2 separate regions of the Homo sapiens genome follow, and region 1 is linked to region 2. The links come from fine-mapping of genetic effects on gene expression. A gene starts in region 2. The other region holds a variant in brackets. All regions are shown on one strand. Distances are between the middles of the regions. Region 1 holds the start of CPM (carboxypeptidase M). Region 2 holds the start of BEST3 (bestrophin 3).

What was found.
Region 1: its variant is fine-mapped to the expression of BEST3 in pancreatic islets (PISA, PIP 0.95).

What each region holds. Positions count from the first base shown.
Region 1 is chr12:68,927,410-68,937,033 of GRCh38, reverse strand. CPM (carboxypeptidase M) reads left to right here and starts at 3,863. Exons shown (of 9, transcript NM_198320.5): 1 at 3,863-3,892; 2 at 4,194-4,356. The coding sequence starts at 4,197. RefSeq lists silencers at 3,484-3,593, 3,624-3,983. The variant G/A (reference allele first, on the strand shown) is at 4,267.
Region 2 is chr12:69,696,199-69,705,705 of GRCh38, reverse strand. BEST3 (bestrophin 3) reads left to right here and starts at 6,403. Exons shown (of 10, transcript NM_032735.3): 1 at 6,403-6,501; 2 at 7,893-8,059. The coding sequence starts at 7,908.

The sequences.
Region 1 (9,624 bases), 770 kb after region 2:
CTTTTTAATCTTGCTTTGTGATAAGCAAAACAAAGTATTACTTTACCCTTTTAACTTGTAATTCTTTGATTGCTTACCAGGTTGGTAACCTTTACTATATTTATTAGCTATTTGTGTTACTGCTTTTATGAACTGCTTATTCATCTCCTTTGCTCATTCTTTATTTTGTAAGAGCATTAATTCCTTCTTCCAGCTTGTAATTTTTCTCATAACCTGATTTAAACCTTTCTTCTTATAACCTTTATAAGGTTTTCTGTACAGAAGTCATACATTTGTATGTTTTCAAATTATTAGCCTTTTTATTATGGTTTTACCTTTAATGGTGCCATACTTAGAAAGATCACCTCTAGGTCCAGGCCTGGTGGCTCACACCTGTAATCCCAGCACTCTGGGAGGCTGAGGCAGGCAGATAATTTGAGGCCAGGAGTTCGAGACCATCCTGGCCAACGTGGTGAAACCCCGTCTCTACTAAAAATACAAAAATTAGCCAGGCGTGGTGGTGGGCACCTGTAATCCCAGCTACTCAGGAGGCTGAGGAAGGAGAATTGCTTGAACCCGGGAGGTGGAGGTTGCAGTGAGCTAAAATTGTGCCACTGCACTCCAGCCTGGGCAACAGAGCAAGACTCTATCTCAAAAAAAAAGAAGAAAGAAAGAAGATCACCTCTAAAATCTCTAAACTTCAGTATTTTACTCTATTAGGCTAACCTTTTATTTTGCTGTTATCTTTCATACTCTTAACACTAAATTTTTTTTTCTCTCTTGACCAGTGCACCTTAAACTTGAATGTACATATACATCATCTGGAAATCTTATTAAAATGTGTGTTCTGATTCAGTAGGTTTGGAGTGGAGTGACAGATTCTACATTTCCAACAAGCTCCCAGGTGATGCCAGTGCTGTCCCTGGCCTGCACTCTGAGTTACTAGCTCCTAAACCTTCAGCACTCAGTCCTCTGTACCCCCTACCTCCATTCTCTGACTCCTTCCTGAAGTTGCCTCCCTTCCTACCTAGTGTGAACCCCAATGGCAGCAATTTCAACTATAGCTCATCTCTGTTTTTCCAGAACAACAATCCTGGCAATCTCCATTCCAGTATTGATGAAGCCACCATTTCTTCCAGTCTCCAGCCACAGCACCCTGCAGGAAATCAGATAGTGTCCACGTACTTCTCTTAAAAAGATAGGATTTCTAAGGTACATCAGCAAGCCTTCACTTTGTTCCCACCCAGTTCCCTTTCCCATTCCTAGAGTAACTTTGCCTAAATTTAATCTTCTCAAGCTCCAGTCCCCCTCCTCAGACCTCTTAGTCAATGAACAACAATGAAAGGGAAACGTCTTCAACCCTTCCAGTGGAAATAACATTTAGCATAGTGACTACTGCACAATTAAAAAAAAAAAAACCTACTCAAAGACTCTACAATGTCATACTAAGACTTCCAACTCTTAGGCCAGGCAAGGTGGCTCACTCATGTAATCCCAGCACTTTGGGAGGCTGAGGCAGAAGGATCACTTGAGGCCAGGAGTTCAAGACTAGCCTGGCCAACATGGTGAAACCTGGTCTCTATTAAAAATGCAGAAGTTAGGCATGTGTGGTGTAAAAATACAAAAGTTACGTAGGTGTGGCGATGCGTGCCTGTAATCCCAGGTACGTTAGAGGCTGAAACACAAGAATCGCTTGAACCTGGAAGGCAGAGGCTGCAGTGAGCTGAGATTGCACCACTGCACTCAAGCCTGGGCAACAGAGTGAGACTGTATCTCAAAACAAACAAACAAACAAACAAACAAACAAACAATAAAACAACTTCTCTTTAAGAAAAAAAAAAAGATGGCCAGGCACGGTGGCTCACGCCTGTAATCCCAGCGATCTGGGAGGCCGAGGCAGGCAGATCGCCCGAGGTCGGGAGTTCCAGACCAGCCTGGCCAACATGGTGAAACCCCGTCTCTACTAAAAATACAAAAATTAGCCGGGCCTGGTGGCAGGTGCCTGTAATCCGAGCTACTCGGTAGGCTGAGGCAGGAGAATTGCTTGAACCTGAGAGGAGGTTGCAGTGAGCCGAGATCATGCCATTGCACTCCAGACTGGGCAACAGAATTGAGACTCCATCTCAAAAAATAAAGAAAGAAATAAAAAATTAAAAAAAAAATTCCAACTCTTGGAAAATTCCCTTTAAAGAGTTACGAATTAAGCTGGTTTATTTATGTAATAAACGCTTCGCACAGTTCTTACAATGTGCCTGCCAACCTTATTTAGGTAGGTACAATTAAGACTTCCACTTTACACACCAGAAAATAAGGCACAGAGTCGACACAGCCACTGAGTGTCAGAGCAAGAATTGGCACTCATCCCGTGAGCGCCTCAGTTCTTTTTTTTTCTTTATATATACTTTAAGTTCTAGGGCACATGTGCACAACTGTGGCACATATACACCACGGAATACTATGCAGCCATAAAAAAGGATGAGTTCATGTCCTTTGTACGGACATGGATGAAGCTGGAAACCATCATTCTCAGCAAACTATCGCAAGGGCAGAGCGCCTCAGTTCTTAAACCACTCTTCTATGCTGCGGCAGAATCACTGGAAGTCTCAGGGAGTCCTGAGTGCGCAATTCTAGGAAAAGTATCTATATCTGTAAGAAAGAAGGGGCAGGGAATCTAACGGTTCTCAGCTCTTGAAGGCACATTAGATTCATTCAAGGTCCTCTCTAAAAATACACTTTCTTGGGCCTCCACGAGAAAAATTCTATTCAATTAGTCGTGGGCTTGCATCCGTATTTTTAGTCTGTAAAAGTGGAATGTTATCTCAAATCAGTGGTTTTCAAACTTTTTATATTCTGCGGACCTTGACACGGGCCCCCAATACCCTGACACGGTTACTTACAATCCGGGAGAGAGTGGGAGAAAGGGGGAGAGAGGGAAGGGGAGAGGGGGAGGGGAGAGAGAGAGAATGAATGAGAATGAATCTTTTAGAGAGGTAGAGGGGGTTGGCCCGTGCCACAAACCACCTCTCAGGTTTGAGTGAAGCCTTCGTTCTCTCTCGTGCAGAGACCATGCCATCCTTCCAGAAAGGAGCATTTTAGGACGTTTTAGGACGAGAGACCTGTAATTGGCCTAAGACTCAGGTGCAGGTGGAGGAAGCATCGGATTTACAACAGTGGTCCTGCCTTCTTCGATGTGACTTCCAGTTTTAAATTCAATTCTAATTTACACAAATCCCACCCACTATGTAAACTTGTTGGAAAATGTCCTGCACTCTGCACTTCGTGGCATTTAAAACTTCCACACACGCGCGCGTTCTTTCTCGAAGCCCCGTGATTGCTTAGCCTCGCTGGGCAGCTTGGCACTGCTGGGAGCTTGGCTCGCCCTGCCGGGGCCGACGCCGCCCGTCCCGCAGGAGCCCGCGCGGGGCTCAGGGCACTCAGGACTCCGCATGCGTCCCGGCTCCAGGTGGGCCCCGGCACCGCCAACCGCAGGAAACCCGCCGAGCCCTAAACGTCTCCCAAGCGGCTGCAGTCTGCGACAGAGAGTGTCCCTCGGTGGAGCGCCCTGTGGCTGCCCAGGCTACAGCCGTGGCCGAGGCGAGGACACACTTCTGACCTGGGGCTCCAGCAAAGACTGTCCGCGAGCGGCGACTCCATGCCCGCAGCCCTCCGCCCAGCTCAGCCGCCCGGCCGCGGGCACCAGCAGCCGCGCCACGAAAGGGCGCACCGCGCGGGCGCCGTCTCTCCTAGGTGCGAAGGCGGCTGAGGCCCCGCCCGGGAGGCACCCGCGCGGCTCCGGAGTGGGCCGGAGGGACGTCCGGGGGCGGGGCCCGGGCGCGCCCGCCCTCTGACCGGGCTATAACACCCGGCCCCGCCGGGCGGCCGCGGGTGGGTAGAGGTGCGCGCCTGGGACCTGGTGAGGCTGGGGGTGCGCGGGGCCGGGCGCAGCTGTGGCAGCTGCCGGACGGCGGAGGCGCCAGGAGGAGGAGGAGAGGGAGGCGCGGGCGGCTGGGTCGAGGGCACCGAGGCTGCCCGTGCTCCCGGTCTCTGGTTGCACGGCTCACTCCCGAAGGTGTTGCTTCCAGCTTTTGCCTCCTTAGGAGGCAGGGAGCGTCAGTGTCGGGAGACCCTGAGACCGGAGTACCGAGACGTAGCTGGTGATGCCCCCGCCTGCCCTCATGTGTTCTCAGGTTCTTCTTATTTTTATTCATCTCTAGAACATGGACTTCCCGTGCCTCTGGCTAGGGCTGTTGCTGCCTTTGGTAGCTGCGCTGGATTTCAACTACCACC[G/A]CCAGGAAGGGATGGAAGCGTTTTTGAAGACTGTTGCCCAAAACTACAGTTCTGTCACTCACTTACACAGTATTGGGAAATCTGTGAAAGGTAGGGTCCGTCTCGTGAACACTTTGCCAAACCCTCAGTCCTCCCTTTCAGTATTCATTAAATATGCCCCAGCTTCCTGTCTGCTCTTCCACGCACCTACTCTGAGTGGCACAGAACAAGTCAACCGGTACCGTGCGTGTTGGTTGTTTTCTGCTTTTGTTGGGAGGAATAGTAGGAAGAACTGAATTTTACTGGACTTGTCCATTGTAATTCAGTGTCACTGAGTCCTTTCCATTATTGGAGTTCTTCTGTCTTTTTGGATCTTGCAGACATTGGTTATTTGGGATGTATGTTTTAGTTCCTTTTCAAGATAAACTCCCAAGTAAGTCCGTTTATCCGTTTCAGTTCCCCTTTGTGTGGGCTTCTTTATATATGACTTGGACTGTTAATGTCATTTCTTCATGTCTCTTTTAAACTGAAATAATGCAGTTTTGTTGGTAAGATTTCTGTGTCATCTGTAGTTAGCCTTTTATTTAAAGTTATGCAAAACTATCATTTCTGCAAGTTTCTTTTAATCTAAGTAGTACAGTTCTGTTGGTTAGATTTGTGTCGTGTATAATTAGCCCTATGGCTTAAAGTTATGCAAAAAAGTGGTTCTATGATTAAAGGCTGTTTTTAAAATGTATCCATTTGAAGAAGACAATGCTAGATAATGAATATATATTAGTAGTGATTGAAACTCTTCCCAGCATTTTCATATTTATCATTAATAATTTATTGTTCTAAGTTAGAAACTACATAAAGTTATTTTCATTTTTATAGACAGCAAGTTTGAATCAGATAAATTAAATAATTTGTTCAAGGTCTCCCAGATGGTGAATTTTATAGCCAGGACTGGCACCCATCCGGCCAAGGCAAATAATTTGATCAGATATCGTTATTTCATCTTTCTTTCTTTCTTTCTTTCTTTCTTTTTTTTTTTTTTTTTTTTTTGGTCAGAGTCTCGCTCTGTTGCCCAGGCTGGAGTGCAGTGGCGTGATCTCGGCTCACTGCAACCTCCGGCTTCCTGAGTTCAAGCAATTCTCCTGCCTCAGTCTCCCGAGTAGCTGGGATTACAGGAATGCGCCACCACAGCTGGCTAATTTTTTTGTATTTTTAGTAGAGATGGGGTTTCACCATATTGGCCAGGCTGGTCTCAAACTCCTGACCTTGTGATCCTCCTGCTTCGGCCTCCCAAAGTGCTAGGATTACAGGTATGAGCCACCGTGCCCGGCCGAGATACCATTATTACTTAATCATCTTTTATTATCCTGATGTTCCCAAAGAGGTTACCAGAAAACTTAGTCCTTAAATCAAAAGTTTCATAAATTTTATGCAATTTGGATCTCAACTTTTTGTAAGGTGTGTTCAAACTCTACCTTGATTTTAGCTCTGAACTTTTGAGTCAATTGAGAGTCTCATAATTACCATATTCTTCATCATTTTTCAAAAAAATCAAGGCTATGGCTTCTATATTAAAGAAAAAGTATTATATAAATGTATTTATGTGCAATGCGAAGTCAATATCCTGGGCTGTGTGTAATAGTAACTTTGTTTTTAAACAGCATTGCCAAAGAGATGGTGCCAGAATTACTCTATATTGCTCTATAATCCAAAATTATAGAGGTTGGGTGTGTGAGAAATCATATCTTGAATCAGCATACGTATTCAGCCTTCTGAAATCATTTTTCCCTAGGGCTAGAGTAGAGCAATTTAAAAAGATCTAGGAATACTAATTATATTAATTAAAAATATATAGAACACAACTAGCTTGAGTTATTGTTCAGTCATCATTTCAACCACAAGATGATGAGGATGTTGTTAATTTTAAGTACTAAGTGATTTGGTAAGGTTTTGTATTTTCAAACACAATGTGCTTGTGACAGTTGGGGGCTCTCTTTCCTAATATGAATCAGCAGTTGTGATCTATCCTGCATGATATCAAACCACAATCACAGTGAAAGTCAGCAGGCTTAATTTTGTTTTTAATTTTACCTTGTATGCACTCTTGCGGTTAAAGGCTTGAGGAGTTATCATGTAAAAATAAAATCTGACACTAGTGGTTAAATATTTGTGTTGAATATGTTGTTCTGAATAATAACTCGGATTAAGAAAAATCCCAAATCTGCCATTTGGCTCCAACTGGTAGATGAAACTGTATGCCAGTAACTGGGAGTCAGTTGCCAAAGTGTCACTGCACATTAGTGTGACAATTGAGAGATGGTGCTCCTTTGTTGGTGGTCTTTTTCACTAGATATTTTCCCTAACCATTCTGCCCTCTGATGTAAGATAAGTTTGCTTAGAAAACAGAATTTATGACCAGGCCCAGTGACTCATGCCTGTAATCCCAGCACCTTGGGAGGCCGAGGCGGGAGGATCACCTGAGGTCAGGAATTTGAGACCAGCCTGGCCAACATGGTGAAACGTTGTCTCTACTAAAAATACAAAAAATTAACCAGACATGGTGGTGTGCACCTGTGGTTCCCGCTACTAGAGAGGCTGAGACCGGAGAATAGCGTGAACCCAGGAGGCAGAGGTTGCAGTGGGCCAAGATCATGCCACTGCACTCCAGCCTGGGTGACAAGAGTGAAACTCTATCTCAAAATAAAAGAAAATAAACAGAATTTATTATACACGTGTTATTTATTTATTTATTTATATTACATGTATTAACGTGGGCAGTCTTACCCAGAAGGGAAAGTAATATTCCTAAGTAACTAAATACATGTTTAGTTTTTGTAAAAACTTAAATATATGTGCTATGCCTATGTAAATATATGCATATCACATATTTTCTTTGTTGTAATTGTGGATTATATTCTGCTTGTTTTTTCATTTCATGTTATTTCCTTAGATATTTCCATGAATTGACAAAGTCGGTAGATGTGAATTCGTTGCTGTTTAGTATTCTATCCTCTTGATTATGTGAATTTTCTTAGTCATTCACCTCTTTGAGCATCTGTATAGTTTTTGGTTAACTCTGTTATAAACAGGGATACTATAAAACCATTGATACATGTCATGATAATTACCTTCTATTATTATTGGTGATTTTTAAAAACGTTTTTATTTTGAAACTTTTAAAATCCACACAAAAGTTAAACACATCTATACCCAGCTTCAGCCATAGTAGACCATATTTCAGTTGAGCCTTTTGAAGGAAATCCCACTGCCTAGTGACATAGTAAAGAAAATCTTAGGTGAAACAAGAGAAGCAAAAAAGTACTGATGACTTAGTTCAGAAAAATCAGAAAAGGTACAGTGTTCATCAGTTCGTTCGTTCAATCCTCCGTTCAATTAAGGAAGCACCTCCCATTTTTTGCCCCAACCCCTTTGTCTAGAAGGATGCCTGGCACATAATCAATAATCTATATCTATTTATTTAATGGATCAAATATTTGCTGAGCAAAAGGCATGGGAAGCAAACAAACGTGTGTGTCATTCATTCCCTGCCATTAGGTAGCTCATTTTCAAATACAAATGTATTTACTGTGAATTTCTCAGGGTAGTCTCTCCACACACACCCCAAAATTAGTTTAGGAACATTTTATTATTTTTTTAAAAAATGAACCCTTGTGTTGAGGGTTGACTATCAATAGATAGCAATGAAAGAACTGCTCTGCTACATACAAAACCCCAAAGGGCCATTTTAAATGAGATTTCCTACCATCTATTTTAAGAATCTTGCATTGACTGGGTGTGGTGGCTCACGTCTATAATCCCAGCACTTCAGGAGACCAGCCTAGGCAACATGGGAGACTCCATTTCTTAAAAAAAAAAAAAAAAATTTAATTAACCAGGCATAATGGTGCATGCCTGTGGTCCCAGCTACTTGGGAAACTGAGGCAGGAGAATCACTTGAGCCTGGGAGTTCAAGGCTGCAGTGGGCCATGATCGTGCCACCGTACTCCAGCCTGGCCTACAGAGCAAGACCCTGTCTCAAAAAAAAAAAAAAAGTATCTTGTCTTGCCTCCTGCTAAGTCTGATCATCATTGTATCTGAATACAGTAGGCGGGATAATAACACCTTCCTTACTAGTGATAATACTATTAGAGATTTTTTAAAGCCAGCCAAATTTAGTAGTCTCTGTTATCAAGTACTTTCCATGTAGTAAATAGTTTAAGACATTATTTCGATCTCAGCAACTCAAAGTAGGCCTTATCCTCATTTACAAAACAGGTAAAATGAGGCACAGAGAGGTTAATTAACTTGCTGAAGATAACATAGCTAAGTATTAGAAGATTCAAACTCAGATCTGCCTATTTCCCAAGCACCTCTCTATTCTCTTTTAAAAAGCAGCTTGACATTTAAGTCTTTAATCCATCTTGAATTAATTTTTGTATAAGGTGTAAGGAAGGGATCCAGTTTCAGCTTTCTACATATGGCTAGCCAGTTTTCCCAGCACCATTTATTGAATAGGGAATCCTTTCCCCATTGCTTGTTTTTCTCAGGTTTGTCAAAGATCAGATAGTTGTAGATATGCGGCGTTATTTCTGAGGTCTCTGTTCTGTTCCATTGATTTATATCTCTGCTTTGGTACCAGTACCATGCTGTTTTGGTTACTGTAGCCTCGTAGTATAGTTTGAAGTCAGGTAGCATGATGCCTCCAGCTTTGCTCTTTTGGCTTAGGACTGACTTGGCAATGCGGGCTCTTTTTTGGTTCCATATGAACTTTAAAGTAGTTTTTTCCAATTCTGTGAAGAAAGTCATTGGTGGCTTGATGGGGATGGCATTGAATCTATAAATTACCTTGGGCAGTATGGCCATTTTCACGATATTGATTCTTCCTACCCATGAGCATGGAATTGTTCTTCCATTTGTTTGTATCCTCTTTTATTTCATTGAGCAGTGGTTTGTAGTTCTCCTTGAAGAGGCCCTTCATGTCCCTTGTAAGTTGGATTCCTAGGTATTTTATTCTCTTTGAAGCAATTGTGAATGGGAGTTCACTCATGATTTGGCTCTCTGTTTGTCTGTTACTGGTGTAAGACTTAAACGTTAGACCTAAAACCATAAAAACCCTAGAAGAAAACCTAGGCATTACCATTCAGGACATAGGCACGGGCAAGGACTTCATGTCTAAAACACCAAAAGCAATGGCAACAAAAGCCAAAATTGACAAATGGGATCTAATTAAACTAAAGAGCTTCTGCACAGCAAAAGAAACTACCATCAGAGTGAACAGGCAACCTCCAAAATGGGAGAAAATTTTCGCAACCTACTCATCTGACAAAGGGCTAATATCCAGAATCTACAATGAACTCAAACAAATTTACAAGAAAAAAACAGACA
Region 2 (9,507 bases):
GGAAAAGGCCAGGAGTTCCATTTTGGGCATGTTGGGTTTGAGATGTTTATGGAAATATTAAGGTAAGTCTGGAGTTGGGTGAAAGATCTGAGCTGGAGGTATGAATTTGGAAGTGGCATCAAGTCTGATTTTTATTTCATTTATTTAATATGATTACATATTAAAATATAGATGTTACTTTTTAAAATATAAAATTATATGGAGCAAAAACTGAAGTTTTTTTCTTCCCCCCTTACTCCAAACCTACTACTCTCCCCAGCAGTAACCACTATTAAGGAGCTGTTATATGTTAAAGGACTGAAAAGATGTCTGAAGAATGCTCAATATACCATATTAGAAAACCAGAACCAGCCGGGCGTGGTGGCTCACGCCTGTAATCCCAGCACTCTGGGAGGCCGAGGCAGGCGGATCACGAGGTCAGGAGATCGAGACCATCCTGGCTAACACAGTGAAACCCCGTCTCTACTAAACATACAAAAAATTAGCCGGGCGTGGTGGCGGGCGCCTGTGGTCCCAGCTGCTTGGGAGGCTGAGGCAAGAGAATGGCGTGAACCTGGGAGGCGGAGCTTGCAGTGAGCCGAGATTGCACCACTGCACTCCAGGCCGGGCAACAGAGGGAGACTCTGTCTCAAAAAAAAAAAGGAAAAAAAGAAAACCAGAACCAACATGGGTTTTTCATTTCCACGTGCATTTTACTACACGAGAAAAGGTATTTTAGAATTGCCCACATATTTATGCATAGCATTTTTCTATTTACCTATATGTTGCCTTTACCCATACAGTAACATAATTTCCACTACCTTCTACAATCACAGTGGTAAAGTAACAGAATTTCACAGCTGTTTGGAATAAACAATATTCTTGAATTCATGTGCCTTTTCTTGTAAAATTAAGCTGATTTTTAATTGATTCTATGTGAAATTTTTTTTCTTTAGCAATCTGGAATGTATTTGAGATGAATAATACCATTCATTTTTAAAAAGTCATCAATTATAGAGTACAGGATACACATTCAGCACCATAATCATAATACTCTAGACTCTAAGCTTTCATCTCTAAAATAGAACAAAGTTTCCATACCTTCCATTAGAAAAAGATAACCTTCAAAATTTGAACTAGTGCATTTCTGTTTTGTTGAGTTAGCAATTACTCTATGCTAGGAAAGTAATGATGACTCCTCAAATATCCAGTCTCTTATGAGCTTAGAGCTTCAGCTGTAATAAAACGCAATAGTCTTTCTAGTCTGAGGAGTTCACTATATCTCCCCTGAAATCAAAGATAATAAATTAATTGAAGAGGTTTTCCATCCTCTTTGGTTTGATTTTTGGCACAGTTCTATGTCCAATGACATACACAGAAACCTCTGCACACCTGGAGTGCCACATGATTTACCCCAAACAGTGTTTGTTATGCAGCTGTTGGATCCATTGTTGCAAGCAGTAAATAGGAAAAAAAGAAAAAAAACAAGAAAGAGTAGGACATGAGTTCTCAAGAAGATCACCATCCAACTGGGCAAGTAAAAATTTACCTGTAGGAAAACATGATCACTATAATTGGTTCTGAAACTAACCAAACCAGTGTATTCTGCTGTGGAAAAAAAAAATGAGGACTGTTCTCTACGTTTTACTCTGAATTTTTCTTGAACTTTTAGCACTGTTTGCTATCTTTTTTCTAGAGAAATCCAGCACATAGCAACATAAGTTCCAGAAAGAAGTATTAACAGGAAAACTGACCACTAACCACAGGCTAATCATTCTTTTTTTTTTTTTTTTTTTTTTTTTTTTTTTTTGACGGAGTCTTGATGTGTCACCCAGGCTGGAGTGCAGTGGCACGATCTCAGCTCACTGCACCCTCCGCCTCCTGGATTCAAGCGATTCTCCTGCCTCAGCCTCCTCAGTAGCTGGGACTACAGGCATGTGCCACCATGCCTGGCTAATTTTTTTGTATTTTTAGTAGAGACGGGGTTTCACCACATTGACCAGGCTGGTATCGATCACCTGACCTTGTGATCTGCCTGCCTCAGCCTCCCCAAGTGCTGGGATTACAGGCGTGAGCCACTGTGCCTGGGCCAGACTAATCATACTTAATTCAGCAACTTTATTTTTTTATGGGCACATGGGCTCCCACTTGAAACTTGAGTTTGCATCCATTTTTGCTGGTAGAATGTTTTTATTTGCAGGATAAAATAAAACACATCAAAAGTTCATGGCATGTCATCAAGAACAGCATACCTGAACAAATTTGAGAATCATGTTCCATAATCTTTGTTCTTCATGAGCAAACAGACTCAAAGGACAAAGGAAGTGTCATATGATACTTCTCTTTCCTCCTCCTCCTCCTCTTGCCTCCTCCTTTTCCTCCTCCTCCTTCTCCTCCTCCTCTCGCCTACCCCTGCTCTTCTTCCCCTCCCTGCAGTGGTAGCTATCCCCTGGGCTCTCTCCCACCATCCTTCCTCTGCATTCCACCCACCCACCCACCCACCATCCCAGTTTATCCCAGAACAACCAAAATAACCTTCAAATTGATTCCCCTTCTATAGTCCCTACCCACTCCAATTCATCACACACTCTTCCCAGAGACTCACATTTCTGCAGCTCGGATTTTTTCGAACCCTTTCCCCATCAAAAACATTGATTGATTGCCCACTTAGTAATGTCCCAAAGTCTTAGGTTCAGAATCAAATCCTCCAAAATACAACGTCTGGTCTTTGGTTAATATTTGAATACATGTGTTATCTACACACAATTTATGTTCAACTAATCACTCAGAAGAAATTTGACAAGAGACTTCTCATGTCAGTGGAGACATGTCAAATCAGTTTAAAATGAATGTGGGGCTTTCTAAATAGCTGCTTCTCAAGTAGAAGGTGGTATTGGCTACGTAAACTTGTTGTTGTTACTATTTCCTGTTTCCTTAAGGAACAAAGAGATTTATTTTGACATCTATAGGTGAATATCAGGATTCCAAGTGGAAATGATTCCTTGTTCTTTTCTATGAATTGCCCTGTCATTGGAGGTTTACTGGAATCAAAGACAAATGTGCTACTCTGGACTGTTGAAAATCAGAGTGGTCAAAATCACATAACTTGATGTTTACTGTCAAGGGAAAATATGGCTGGTATAGTTATTTCATAGAGCCCTGAAATTGCCTAAGGGTCTATCATATCGTTTGCTATTAATTATAGGGTTAAAATATTTTCCACAAAAGTCTAGCAAGATTAACTTTATGCCAAATGATACCACCCCTCTAGTGTGGCAGGACAGAGTGCCACTGTCTTCTTTATATGTTGTTTTCCTTTTTATTTTTTAATAATCATATTTTACTTTTAGAATCTGGAAAAAAATTTCTAAAGAAACTTTAAAGTTCGATTTAAAAAGTGATATGAGCCTTCAACTTTGCAATCCGGTGTTTGTTGGATATTTTAAAATAAGCTTTAGTGGCTTGTCTCCTCTAAGCAGGGCTATTTCGACAAGGCCTCTTTCAGTACCTGTTAGAAATCACCACCAGATTCAGAGCTCAACAATGGGAGTTTGTTCATTCAATCTGATCATTATTGACTAATTTGCATTTAGAATGCTGTCTCCAACCATTAATTAGTCATTCCTCAAAACAACCCAATGGGAGAGAGGAACATAATTATCCCTGTTTAGAAATGAAACCAACCAACAGTGCGTTCAGTGCCCCACAGAGGCAGATCCCCTAGCTATGCAGTCATGGCTGCTGGGAATATGCCAGCTGTCAGGGCCACCACACAACCAATAGGAGATGCAAGAGTGAGAATTTTACAAAATACCTCCGATGTTCCTATTTCATAAGCATTTGGGTTTAGATTTGCTGAGATTCGTCTTGCAAACCTTTATAAACATAACATCAGATCTATCAGACCACTTTTCATGGCAACACAACATAAGATGTGCAACATTGTATATATGCTTTTTAAATGTTCACAAATTCCCTCAAATAACCAACAGAATTATAATAGTGAAGGTAAGGAATAATCAAACAGCAAATACATACTAAATATTCATTATTCACAGGGCTCCATACTGGAATTATGAACAGGGATGGGGGCAAGAAATTAAAAAGATACCTACAGCCCTGGCTTTGCTCTAATCTAAGGTACCTAGAATTTGATAAAGAATCCAGCGAAATGCATATAAAACTTACTGTTTTAGAAAAATTTAATTATATGTAATCTTAATTTTAGAATAAGCATTTTTTTCTATATCTTTCTCCACAAAAATACATTTTCTTTAAGTTAAGGTGCAAGGGTGCACAAGTTACTTTAGAAGGTTGGAAAAGTCCCAGGAATTGGCCCTGAAATTATTTATTTTATTACTTAAAGAACGCTGGTGAATTCTCTCTTTTAAGAAAGAAAATATGGGGCTGGGCGCGATGGCTCACGCCTATAATTCCAGCACTTTGGGAGGCTGAGGAGGGCGAATCACCAGGTCAGGAGTTCAAGACCAGCCTGACCAATATGGTGAAACTCCCTCTCTACCAAAAATACAAAAATTAGCCAGGTGTGGTGGGACACGCCTGTAGTCCCAGCTACTCGGGAGGCTAAGGCAGGAGAATTGCATGAACCCAGGAGGCAGAGGTTGCAGTGAGCCAAGATTGTGCCATTGCACTCCAGCCTAAGCGACAGAGTGAGACTGTGTCTCAAAAAAAGAAAGAAAGAAAGAAGAGAGAGAGAGAGAGGGAGGGAGGGAGGGAGGGAAGGAAGGAAGGAAGGAAGGAACGAAGGAAGGAACGAAGGAAGGAAGGAAGGAAGGAAGGAAGGAAGGAAGGAAGGAAGGAAGGAAGGAAGGAAGGAAAAGAAAAGAAAGAAACTATGCGCCGGGTGTGGTGGGCTCACACCTGTAATCCCAGCACTTTGAGAGGCCGAGGCAGGCATATCACCTGAGGTCGGGGGTTCAAGACCAGACTGACCAACATGGAGAAACCCTGTCTCTACTAAAAATACAAAATTAGCTGGGCATGGTGGCGCATGCCTGTAATCCCAGCTACTCAGGAGGCTGAGGCAGGAGAATCGCTTGAACCCGGGAGGCGGAGGTTGCAGTGCACCGTGATCGGCACCATTGCACTCCAGCCTGGGCAAGAAGAGCAAAGCTCCATCTCAAAAAAAAAAAGAAAAAATTTCCTAGCTGACCATGGAAGGATAACAAATGTGATGAATCTGGCCGGGTGCGTTGCCTCACGCCTGTAATCCCAGCATTTTGGAAGGCCGAGGCAGGCAGATCACTTGAGGTAAGGAGCTCGAGATCAGCCTGGCCAACATGGTGAAGCCTCATCTCTACCAAAAATATAAAAAATTAGCCGGTGTGATGGTGTGCACCTGTAATCCCAGCTACTTGGGAGGCTGAGGGAGGAAAATCGCTTGAACCCGGGAGGTGAGGTTGCAGTGAGCCAAGATCGTGCCACTGCACTCCAGCCTGGGCGACAGAGCGAGACTCCATCTTAAAAGAAAAAAAATGTGATGAATCCATGTGTTATTATTTCCCACTACACTAAGCCATCAATATATCATGATTCTCTATGTGTTCTTCTAACACACAAACACACACCACACACACACTAACACATAATCGTTGCTTTTAATTGAAGAACATTTTCAACACCTCTCAAGTGGCAAAAATCCTGTTTATATTCTTGTCTGCCCCAGTTTATGGCTTCATAAGAATTTTTTCATCTGTTTTTTGAGGCAGAGTCTCGCTCTGTCGCCCAGGCTGGAGTGCAGTGGTGTGATCTCAGCTCACTGCAACCTCCGCCTCCTGGGTTCCAGTGATTCTCCAGCCTTAACCTCCCAAGTAGGTGGGATTGCAGGAGCCCACCGCCAGACCCAGCTAATTTTTGTATTTTTAGTAGAGACAGCGTTTCACCATGTTGGCCAGGCTGGTCTCGAACTCCTGACCTCAGGTGATCTGCCTGCCTCAGCCTCCCAAAGTGCTAGGATTACAGGTGTGGGCCACCGCGTTCCAGCCCAGTTTTAAGAATTTAATCTTCATTTCAAGCACAAAAAGACTTTTTTTTTTTTTTTTTGGCTGGTGGGGCCTCTTTTTTGAACTCTTTAGGGCCAAATCAACCTTTCTTCCTTGATCCCAGGGTGGAGTCAAATGAATCTAACAGACAAACGGCCCAACATCCTTCATGTCACTGCCAACTTCTCATTCAAAGGGGTACTTGGGGTGGCAGGTGGAGTTATAATTATAGCTTAGAAAAAAGCAGCATCAGCAGCTGTTGCTTCTGTTTGTTCCCAGCTATAACTGTCATCAGTGGCTAAACTGGCATAAACAGGCCTCTACAAGTGGAAAAACATTTAACCCCTGTTCTTGTCACACTCTGGGTCCTCTCAGTGGCCAGAGAACAGAAAGAAAATCTGACTGTGCACGAGCGAAGGGTGACACCGGGCGTGCAGCACCGACCTGAAGGCACCTCTTCGGGGGAGCCCGAAATTTGAAGATTCTCTTTCCTGTCGGAGACTACAAACCAAATAAATAGGTTAGTGCCCAGAGTAAACCTATGCATTTTAATTCTGACCTCTACTTGCTGTGATTTTCATTTTCCTGGCAGAGCTTGAAAAGAAGAGTGAACTACTAAATGAAAGAAAGGAAAGTTAATTAAGGACTGTTATTTAAAACTACCGGGAGTCCATGAGAACAAATTATGAAATGGGTTTAATTTATTATGCTCCTCTCCCAATTTTGGCTGTATTCGCACTAGGCAAATAGACAAGGTAAAGATGGAAAAATAAAACCGGTTTTGTGGCATGAGTCCCATCCTTTTGTAATGCCACTTACTTGTGCCAAAAGGCCCTACCTTCTTTATTAAAATCAGTAATGTTGAAAGCTAAGTTTGTGATTTTAGAAAATGCTGTAAACGTAGCTCCAGAGTTTCATTTCCTTAGGGAAAATAGGCAAATCAGAGTTGAATTGTTTTTCCAGCAATGAGTAAAGATAGAAAATTTTCTTGTTTATGATAAAATGTGTGGTGTAGGCTACTTTACAAAAGAAATCTGCTACAGAATTTATTTTTTGTGTCTAGTACAATTCTATCTAAAAGCTTCATGATTTCAGTCTAAGTAGCTCTATAAGACTCTCCTCATAGATCCTTTTGAGAAAAGTAAGATTTTAAATAAATCTCATTTTATTTGCATATGTTCTATCTTAGCCAGAAATTGAGCAAGATTTTCAAAGATTAGCTTTGCGCTGTCTGTTTCAAAACCTGAATATTTAATGTCTTGGTGAAAAGTGGTGGAATTCCAAAGAACTCACCAAAAACAAGGCTTTTGGGCCCAGTGCTCATCCTAACCACATTCATGAAATGGACTCAAGTAGAAAGAGTTGTAAATAATGACCTCATTTTGTTCAACTCCAAAGAGAATGTGAACCATCCCTAAGCATTTATGTACAACTTGTCATGGGGAAACTGCACCATTCTTATTTATCACTATGACCCAACTTTTTGGCTGACTTTTGAAATGCAATGAGTGCTAACGATGCATTTGGACCTCCACTAGAGAGACATCTACATGCAATCAAACCCACCAAAAGTGCCCCATCAATTAAATTCTCACGAGGGCCTTGTTTGTCTCATTTGTTCATTCAAATATATATTGGCCAATGGCTATATAATCTAAAAATAATATTTAACAGTTAAGGCAAGTTTAAGATGTCTAATATTACTCTTCCCAGAGACTGCTTTCCTCCTGCTTTCTGCTAAACTGAGATAATGGTTATCTGAAAGTTCCGAATTATAGAAACTAAGAAAGACAAAACAGAGATATGGCTGACTAGTTGCTGGCTTGAATTTCCTTGATATACAGACATACAGATTTATGCCCTATTTTAAACATTGCTTTTTACTTGTGTTTTGTCTTCTTGCTCTTCTAGAAAAAACTATCCAAGATGACTGTCACTTACTCCAGTAAAGTAGCAAATGCAACTTTTTTTGGATTTCATAGGTTACTCCTCAAGTGGAGAGGCAGCATCTACAAACTACTGTACAGGGAATTTATTGTTTTTGCTGTTCTTTATACAGCAATAAGTTTGGTATACAGGTACTTTTCTTTACATGTCTCCTTAAATGGCCATCAGATATTGTGTAAGATACAGTCTCAAAAATCTGAACCTTTTGATTGCCACTGACTTCGCATTATGGAACTCCTTTTTTGCGTGAGCCTCTCATTTGTCTTCTTCCCCTCAGGACAGATTTTAATCCACCACTAACCATTGTTAGGTTGTAAAATAGACCCTCACTGTTAAGATTCAGGTGGCCTTCATTCCAGCCCCAGTTGTGCCTCGAGACTGTTGCAATAGGCACAAAATGGAAGGATTATCCTTAGATCTTTACTGTGTAAAGACTTTTGAATGGGCAAAGTCCACAGACAATAATTATTTGTGCTTCTGTCAACTTGTCATTCATAGTTGATGATTTGACAGCTTGTAGCAACTACCTATATAATCAACATGTTCATGATTGGTGTATGTCAGGGAAAAGCTTTCCTTCTTTTGGCCTGGAATGAAAATATCTTATCCAGGATGATGCCTGCCACACTTAACAGTACCTCAACTAAAGCAAAGGCCTGTAGAATAATTTATTTTCTTTCCGTTTTCTGAGTTGAGGGTATATTATGTTCACAAAAGGAGGTGCTTATTCTTTATAACATTACAACATATGCCTGTCAGATTGACAGGAAATTTGAGCAATATCAAGTCCAAGAAATATTTTTATGATGAAAAGTTATAGTCTTAATAAAATTTCATCAGTATGATAAAAGGGAAGACTTATGAGATTTTAAAGCTTTTTTTATTAAAATTGAATGCATAAATTTCTTCTCTGGAGGAAGCTAAAATTTAAAACAGGAAAGCTAAAGGTTTTTGAGGCTGTATTTCCATTTTTTCTATGTTCATAGTTTGTTATTTTTCTTCTGCATACAGATAAACAAATTTGTGTTTCATTGCTCTCACATTCTTCCTTGCAGCAACAGGATCTCCTTTGGAAAAGAGGGATATTAATGTAGTTGACTGATAATTATTAAAAGTAAAATAGGTACAGCTATTTTTCCACATGTCAAAACAACCCTTCCAAGCAAGTGTATGCATTGGTATATATCTTGACAAAATATTTTTAGAGGGAAAGTCCTATTAACAACCTCTAATAATTTTTCAGACATGTCATATAATATGATATTATTTTGGCAATTTAGGTAGGTATCACCTAAGCCTTCAGAATATGAAATGGTAAAAGATACAATGGTGTTTCGTGATAATTATCTCATTAGTTCATTTTTACTAATGTGAATTTATTGCTGCTACTTCTGCTAAGAATAGAACAGAATAGCCCTTAGTACAGTTGCAATGTAGCTAGAAATGTTCCTTGGGGCCTCAACTTTTGTTCCAATATCATACTTATACCCCACAACATTTTATGCATATATTTCTTCTAAAGCAGAGGGCTTACATTTATAACAAAAATTATCAGTTCAAGTCATCCTTAAATTTTTAA